Regions from separate parts of the Homo sapiens genome. Here regions 1 and 3 are each linked to region 2. Evidence: fine-mapped expression QTL. A gene starts in region 2. Each other region holds a variant in brackets. All regions are shown on one strand. Distances are from middle to middle.

Region 1 (2,759 bases), 270 kb after region 2:
TGCTTTCTAGGTTTGGGGTTTGAGCAGTGGAATAAATGGTGATAAAATGTGTTGATGAAAGAGAATCTGTTCCAAGATGGCTGAATAGAAACAGCTCCAGTCTGCAGCTCCCAGCGTGATCGATGCAGAGGATGGGTGATTTCTGCATTTCCAACTGAGGTACCTGGTTCATCTCATTGGGACTGGTTGGACAGTGAGTGGAGCCCACAGAGGGTGAGCCAAAGCAGAGTGGGGCATCGCCTCACCTGGGAAGCACAAGGGGTCAGGGGATTTTCCTTTCCTGGCGAAGGGAAGCCGTGACAGACTGTACCTGGAAAATCGGTATACTCTGGCTCAAATACTGTGCTTTTCCCACAGTCTTAGCAACGAGCAGACTAGGAGATTCTCTCCCATGCCAGACTTGGCAAGTCCCACACCCACAGAGTCTTGCTCACTGCTAGCACAGCAGTCTGAGATCAATCTACGAGGGTGCAGCCCTGCAAGGGGCGTCCACCATTGCTGAGGCTTGAGTAGGTAAACAAAGTGGCTGGGAAGCTTGAACTGGGTGGAACCCACCGCAGCTCAGCAAGGCCTACTGCCTCTATAGACTCCACCTCTGTGGGCAGGGCATAGCTGAATGAAAGGCAGCAGACAACTTCTGCAGACTTAAATGTCCCTGTCTGACAGCTCTGAAGAGAGCAGTGGTTCTCCCAGCATGGTTTGACCTCTGATAATGGACAGACTGCCTCCTCAAGTGGGTCCCTGACTCCCATGTAGCCTAACTGGGAGACACCTCTCAGTAGGAGCCAAAAGACACCTCATACAGGCAGGTGCCCCTCTGGGATGAAGCTTCCAGAGGAAGGATCAGGCAGCAATATTTGCTGTTCTGTAATATTGCTGTTCTGCAGCCTCTGCTGGTGATACCCAGGACAACAGGGTCTGGAGTGGACCTCCAGCAAACTCCAACAGACCTGCAGCTGAGGTTCCTGACTGTTAGAAGGAAAACTAACAAACAGAAAGGAATAGCATCAACACCAACAAAAAGGACATCCACACGAAAACCCCATCTGTAGGTCACCAACATCAAAGACCAAAGGTAGATAAAACCACAAAGATGGGTAAAAACCAGAGCAAAAAAGGTGAAAATTCTAAAAACCAGAGTACCTCTTCTCCTACAAAGGATTGCAGCTCCTCGCCAGCAAAGGAACAAAGCTGGATGGAGAATGACTTTGACGAGTTGACAGAAGTAGGCCTCCGAAGGTTGGTAATAACAAACTTCTCTGAGCTAAAGGAGCACGTTCTAACCCATTGAAGCTAAAAACCTTGAAAAATGGTTAGATGAATGGCTAACCAGAATAAATGTGTATAGAAGACCTTAAATGACCTGACGGAGTTGAAAACCATGGCACGAGAACTTCATGAGGCACACGCAAGCTTCAATAGCCAATTTGATCAAGTGAAAGAAAGGATATCAGTAATTGAAGATCAAATTAATGAAATAAAGCAAGAAGACAAGATTAGAGAAAAAAGAGTAAAAAAGAATGAACAAAGCCTCCAAGAAATATGGGACTATGAGAAAAGACCAAATCTACGTTTGATTG[G/A]TGTACCTGAAAGTGACGGGGAGAATGGAACCAAGTTGAAAAACACTCTTTAGGATATTATCCAGGAGAACTTCCCCAACCTAGCAAGGCAGGCCAACATTGAAATTCAGGAAATAGAGAGAGCACCACAAAGGGACTCCTCGAGAAGAGCAACCCCAAGACACATAATTGTCAGATTCACCAAGGTTGAAATGAAGGAAAAAATGTTAAGGGCAGTCAGAAAGAAAGGTTGGGTTACCCACACAGGGAAGCCCATCAGACTAATGGCGGATCTCTCAGCAGAAACCCTACATGGCAGAAGAGATTGGGAACCTATATTCAACATTCTTAAAGAAAAGAATTTTCAACCCAGAATTTCATATCCAGCCAAACTAAGCTTCATAAGTGAAGGAGAAATAAAATCCTTTACAGACAAGCAAATGTTGAGAGATTTTGTCACCACCAGGCCTGCCTTACAAGAGATCCTGAAGGAAGCACTAAACATGGAAAGCAACAACTGGTACCAACCACTGCAAAAACATACCAAATTGTAAAGACCATTGATGCTAGGAAGAAACTGCATCAATTATGGGCAAAATAACCAGCTAACATCATAATGACAGGATCAAATTCACACATAACAATATTAACCTTAAATGTAAATGGGCTAAATGCTCCAATTAAAAGACACAGACTGGCAAATTGGATAAAGAGTCAAGAACCATCAGTGTGCTGTATTCAGGAGACCCATCTCATGTGCAGAGACACACATAGGCTCAAAATAAAGGGATGGAGGAAGATCTCCCAAGCAAATGGAAGGCAAAAAAAAGCAGGGGTTGCAATCCTAGTATCTGATAAAACAGACTTTAATCCAACAAAGATCAAAAGAAACAAAGAAGGCCATTACATAATGGTAAAGGGATCAAGTCAACGAGAAGAGCTAACTATCCTAAATATATATGCAACCAATACACGAGCACCCAGATTCATAAAACAAGTCTTTAGAGACCTACAAAGAGACTTAGACTCCCGCACAATAATAATGGGACACTTTAACATCCCACTGTCAGTATTAGATCAATGAGAGAGTTAACAAGGATATCCAGGACTTGAACTCAGCTCTGCACCAAGTGGACCTAATAGACATCTAGAGAACACTCCACCCCAAATCAACAAAATATACATTCTTATCAGCACCAC
Region 2 (2,759 bases):
AGAAGTGTCAGCAGGCTTTAGCCTAAAAGTAATCATCAGTATTTTGTTTTTCCTAAATCAATCACTGGTGCTAGAATTATTAAAAGAAAGCATGGCCTGTGGCAGTCTAGTCCATGCTGTACTTATTCATCTGTTAAGAGTGGTACTAGGCTTCCAGAGTTGTCATCTATTAGTAGACAGAAGACCACGACACACTCAACGAACAGCTTGATGCCAAGGTGTTCTAACGCTCCATCACTGCACGCTCCATCACAAAAATGCGCCCTTTTGGACATCTGATTTCTCCTTGAAATGTCAGCTGTCTCAAACCAATAGATATGTCCACTACCTATTGGGGGAAAAAGTAAATGTAGTTCTCAAGTAGTGGTTCAAGTTACCCTAGGTTCAACCCTCAGCCTGATACCTTCCTATCATCAAGAGCTTATAATCAGAGACACTTAACCAAAAGCGTGGAGGGACGGAAAAAGAGCAAATCTTGCCACTGATTTCTTTCATAAAAAAGAAAGAGCGTCCCAGGCCTTCCTCCTCGCGCAGCCAGGCCGGCGCCCACTCCGCAGGCTGCGAGGCGAGGCCCCCAGCACCCGCACACCCCCGCCCCGGATTGGCCAGCCCCGCAGTCACTCAGTACCGACACGTCAGGGCAGCCGCTCCCTCCCTCCTCCCGCCCCCTTCTCCCCGCGCTTGGCAAGAAAAGCGGGCAACGTGGAGCGGGAACAAAGGACCCCGCGGCCCACGGCGATCGGGGACTCCGTGCCACCCTACTCCAGGCCCGGGGCTGGCTGCCCGCCCACACGAGCCGAGTCTCGAGAGCTCTTCCAGAAGAGAATCCCAAACCCCAGGCAAACCCGAGGCGAGGCGTCCGTTCCTGACAGCAAGAACGGGGAGTCCCGCGCCCTCCTTCCGGCGGGTCATCCCCGCCCGCGGCGCCCTAACCCAGGCCCCCCAAAACCCTTCGAACAAAAAACTCTTGTTCCTCCCAGCCTGCCTCACCCGCGCCAGTGTAGCAAAGGGGCTCCAGCCTCCGCGCTCTCCGAGGCGACCGGCGCCCGCTCTCGGCCGCCAACGCAACTTGGCAACCATGGCAGCGCTGGAGCGCGGGCCCAGCGCGGCGCGGGCTTCACGTCCCAGAGGGCGGCGGCGGCCGCTTGGGGCTGCCTCCCCTGATGAGGACACCGCTTCCGCGCCTCCCACCCTCTTCCCATCCGCCGGCGCCATCCCTTCTTCTCGGATTCTAGCCGCGCCGTCTCCCTCATCTGTCGTTCGTAGAACCAGCGCGTATTACCTGGTTCATCTCTGAAGAGATGGAAACATTCATTTCTAGAGCTTCGATGGGAAGCAGGAGGAAGCGGGCGGGAATCGGCCCAACGGAAAGCGCCAGAAGGCGGCGGAAGACGGGAGCGGTCAAGTAGAAGGACGAGGGGCCAGTCCGTGGAGACTGAAAGGAAGGGGGAGCGCCACCGAGAACTCGCGGGAACTCGCTCGCTCGCCGATACAGCCGCGCCGAAGCAGCAGGCGGAGAAACTGCGCCCAGCAGCTCTGAGCGACCGACCTCCACGCGCGACCGGGAGACACTGCCTCCGCCGCCGCCGACCGCTCGCGCCGCACCCCCTCGCACGTCACCACGTGCGCTGCCGCCGCCGACGCCTCCCAGCCCGCTTCCGTCTCGAATCCATCTGCAAATCACAGGCGAGCTCCATAAAGATCCCACTCTAAGCCCCGCCCCACCCGCGGCCCCGCCCACATCCCGCCCCGCCTTCCTCCCTGGTCTACTGGGGTTCCTTCCTTCTCGGTGTAACTAGGTCAGCGCAAGGTGATCCTGAGGAGATAGGCGGCGCTCGGGGGGCGCCCTCGTTCCTCTTATCGCGCCTTTGTCCCTCCCTCCGTTCCTTGCCCCGCACCCTCACTTTCGCCGCCCTGTGCGTTGCCTGTCCCGGAACTGGTTCCCTCAAGCCGCCCTCACCTGTTCTGACTTCCCCTCGAGGCACAATAGCCTGAGAGATCAGACGTGGGAGATTAGATTGCTCGGCGTCAGACCTACTTCTAGGCAACCCCCCCTAGACTGGAGCTGCTCGTCGTGGACATTAGGATCTAGTTGGGCATGAGCCCTTAACTTAAGGGTCGGGGGGGAAGTGGCGGGTGCGGAGAGGAGGCGTGGAGAGTGTGAGGAAGAAGAGAGGCACTCTGAGAAGAAGTCGAACAACTAACCCCTCATTTGGCCTGGTTTGGGTGAGAAGATTGAGTCACTTGGGGAAAAAAATATTGGAGAAGTCAGAGAAGGTGTAAATCAGTGGTGCCACAAACACCAGTTTACTTCCACTTTTCACCCCCCGGGTCTGTTTTGTCTGCGTGCAGCTCTCCTCGTGTCGGAGACGCTGAGTCAGTTCTCTACTGGTCTTGCCCTCTTCCGGAAAAAGAAAACACACCTGAGAAGTGGTAGTTCCTATCCTAACCTACTGGGGCCCTTTATACCAGGTGCCAAACTTCATTATCCACCCCACCACCTTGCCCGGGAGGGAGATCTGTGAAAGCGAAACGTGATTTAAGCTGGGATCTGGCAGCAACTTCGTGGACTCTGAAGGGCACGTGGGAAAGGAGTTTTGATTGAAGGTGAGGGATTTAGTGAGGTAAAATTATATCCAAATTAGAGTTTGGTAAAGGCTTCCAGGTTAATGTCCTGTTAACGCTTATCCTGATTTGTGGAGGACACTTAAGCTGTCTAGGCCTAACCTTGTGTTTGATCACTCACCTTAATTTGTAGA
Region 3 (2,759 bases), 250 kb after region 2:
CTGAGCAGCTTGGCCTATGTTTTCCCTTTATCTCTCTCTTTGTTTTCTTTCTTTTGGCCCACCCTCCCTCCTCCCCTCTCTTCTTTCCTTCCTTCCTTCTTATGCCTGCCTTTCCCCTGCCATAATTCATACCTAACCTCACAGGCTCTTTCAGAGCTGTTAAGTAAAATTCTATAAGTAAAAACGCTCTGTATAATTTTTTTTCACCTGCTGCTCAACCTACCTGGTGACCCAGAGCTCCAATTTCTCATAAGAATTGCCACTACCTCTCTTGATTAAATTTTCAGGTTCATATTTTTGCACAATTGTTTTTTATAAACATGCATGAACACAAATAGGATTATTTATGTGATTTATTTCAGTCAAATTACTCTGATTCCAACCAATCTGAAGACATCTCCAACTTAACCATGGTTTTGGACATGATGCGGTGGGGGGGACAGTAAACCATGTTTTTTATTATATCCTGTCTTTGACAGATATTAGGAGACTAGACCAGTATGGAGTGAGATGACATTGTTAGTGATTTTTTCTTGGGATGCTTATCACATTGTACAGAATCTCATGTTGATCTTTCTAATTTTTTTTGTAATCCATGCAAGCTGTATATTTCCTTGTAAAAAATTGATATTTGGGAAAATATTTTTACCCTGAGAAGTTCCCAGAAATAGAGATTTTCTGAATCTTATGAGCTATGAGACATTTAACCAAAGAAAATTTTCAAAAACTATTTTAAATGGAAGCTCCATATATATTGTGCTTAATTTTGTCAAGAGACATAGTCTTAGGAGCACTTTTGACAAAATATCTGCTGTTCTGTTGATAACCTTGAAGCTGACCTCTTTCCCATTAAAGAATTAACATTTGGAATTTTTATATGAATGAATAAAACTGCAATGTCACCTTCCATTTAAGCAATATTTTTCACTTCTTTGGCATTTCTAGCCAGTCTTTTTTTTTAATTTGTGTCCTTGAGGTAGTCATTCATTTTGGATCTTAAATATCAAGCTTTCAGCATTTGTCCTTTTAGAGACTGTGTCATGAGGCTGAACTCTAATACTTGAAAATGATTAGAGTTTGCCACTTTACAACCGTTCTGATAGTTCATCACCTGCTTGGATTTCAGCTTACTCTGTAAATTCAGGTACTTAATACCTGACTCTGAATAAAAATATTTTGAAGTGTTTTAGCAACCAAACAAACCATGCAATGAGAAAGAGGTGCAGA[C/T]GACTCGCTTGTGGTTATGGTTGTCAAGGAAACCATTTCCGTATATAGTGTTTGATAACAGCCATGTTTTTTTAAAGGCCATAAAAACAAAGCTTGTCCAGAAGTATGAAGAAGAAAGCATACAATGAAATAAGCCACAGCCAACTAGAAGTTATGAGAATGCATTAGATGCAAAATGCTAGATATCAATTGATGAGATGTTTTACAACATAGAAATTAAACTCAAGAGGGATAACATGTTGAAAAGTGTGGCAGAATGGGGGTGGCAGCAAAATGCCCTTGTTGAGGCAAGGTCAAAGTCTCACTATGTTCTCAAAATATACTGTGTGCATTTTTAGAGAAATTGTTTAATTAAACAAACAGCTTCATCTTTGCCATACACAAACTCGTGGAATGGAATTTAAACAGCTTTGATAACATAATCAGTGAGAGGCTTGAATATATTGCCCAGCAATAGACTAGATTGCTAGAGCTACACAAGCTGCAGGAAATGGAGAGCTTATTTGGGGGTTTTGTCTAGTTTATGCTACGTTTTGCTTTAAAAGAGAAATGAACTGTAGTGCATAGTGATGCTGAAGATCTTTATGGAGGAAAAAAGATCCTAAGATGTTGATTATGGATAAAGTCTATTTTGAAAGCTCTTTCTCAAGGTCTATACATATAGAGCAAAACCCCAAGGAGGAAAAGATGGCTGGGTATGGTGACTTATGCCTGTAATCCCATCACTTGGGGAGGCTGAGGCAGCAGATCACTTGAGGTCAGGATCTCAAGACCAGCCTGGACAACATGTGAAACCCTGTCTCTATTAAAAAAAAAAATAGCTGGGCATGATGGTGCATGCCTATAATCCTAGCTACTCAGGAGGCTGAGGCAGGAGAATCACTTGAACCTAGGAGGCGGAGTTTTCAGTGAGCCGAGACCGTGCCATTGCACTCCAGCACTCCAGCCTGGGCAACAGAGTGAGACTCTGCCTCAAAAAAAAAAAAAAAAAAGAAAGAAAGAAAAGAAAAGAAAAAAGAAGAAAAAATGATGTTGGTTTGACATTACAGATTTTTATTCTAAAATATGGTTTCCCATTCATAAAATGTGAAACATAAAGTATGAAAGATGTGGCAAAAGTGGAACTGTAAGGTGCATGATTCTATAGAGAAAAGGGGTAAATTGAGCCTAGTCTGAAACTATCCAACCTACAAAAAAAGAACATGTGGTTTAAAAGATACATGATTTGACATGTTGGAAGCCAGATGAAAGTCCAATGAAAAGACATAATTTCTGAATAGATTCTAATGTCTAAAAGAAATGATTTCATTCTTGCTCGAGCAATTTTTTCTTATTTCATAAACTATTAGGGTAATTATTTATGTAAGCAGAAAAATTGATTTTGTACTTCTCCCTTCCTTTTTCTTTAATATGTACACATAACTGCAGCATATGACATAGTAAAATTTTCACATTTGTTTCTTTACAATTTACCACAAAGGAAATGTCGTTTGGGCAACTTATGATGTGCAAAGATAGAGCCAACTCACTAC

What was found.
Region 1: its variant is fine-mapped to the expression of IVNS1ABP in whole blood (INTERVAL, PIP above 0.99).
Region 3: its variant is fine-mapped to the expression of IVNS1ABP in whole blood (TOPMed, PIP above 0.99).

The regions. Positions count from the first base shown.
Region 1 is chr1:185,586,340-185,589,098 of GRCh38, forward strand. The region is part of intron 2 of LINC01350 (long intergenic non-protein coding RNA 1350); the gene reads right to left. All of the region lies in intron 1 of LOC107985239 (a long non-coding RNA gene), which reads left to right. Among named protein-coding and RNA genes, the nearest start is that of LINC01350, 41 kb to the right of the region's middle. RefSeq lists an enhancer at 1-351. The variant G/A (reference allele first, on the strand shown) is at 1,581.
Region 2 is chr1:185,315,671-185,318,429 of GRCh38, forward strand. It overlaps IVNS1ABP (influenza virus NS1A binding protein), which reads right to left and starts at 1,573. Exons shown (of 15, transcript NM_006469.5): 1 at 1,283-1,573. It overlaps CBSLR (CBS mRNA stabilizing lncRNA), which reads left to right and starts at 1,782. Exons shown (of 4, transcript XR_007066771.1): 1 at 1,782-2,607. RefSeq lists enhancers at 899-1,512, 2,162-2,261, 2,512-2,591 and silencers at 1,002-1,061, 1,522-1,831.
Region 3 is chr1:185,565,950-185,568,708 of GRCh38, forward strand. All of the region lies in intron 2 of LINC01350 (long intergenic non-protein coding RNA 1350), which reads right to left. All of the region lies in intron 1 of LOC107985239 (a long non-coding RNA gene), which reads left to right. Among named protein-coding and RNA genes, the nearest start is that of LINC01350, 61 kb to the right of the region's middle. The variant C/T (reference allele first, on the strand shown) is at 1,228.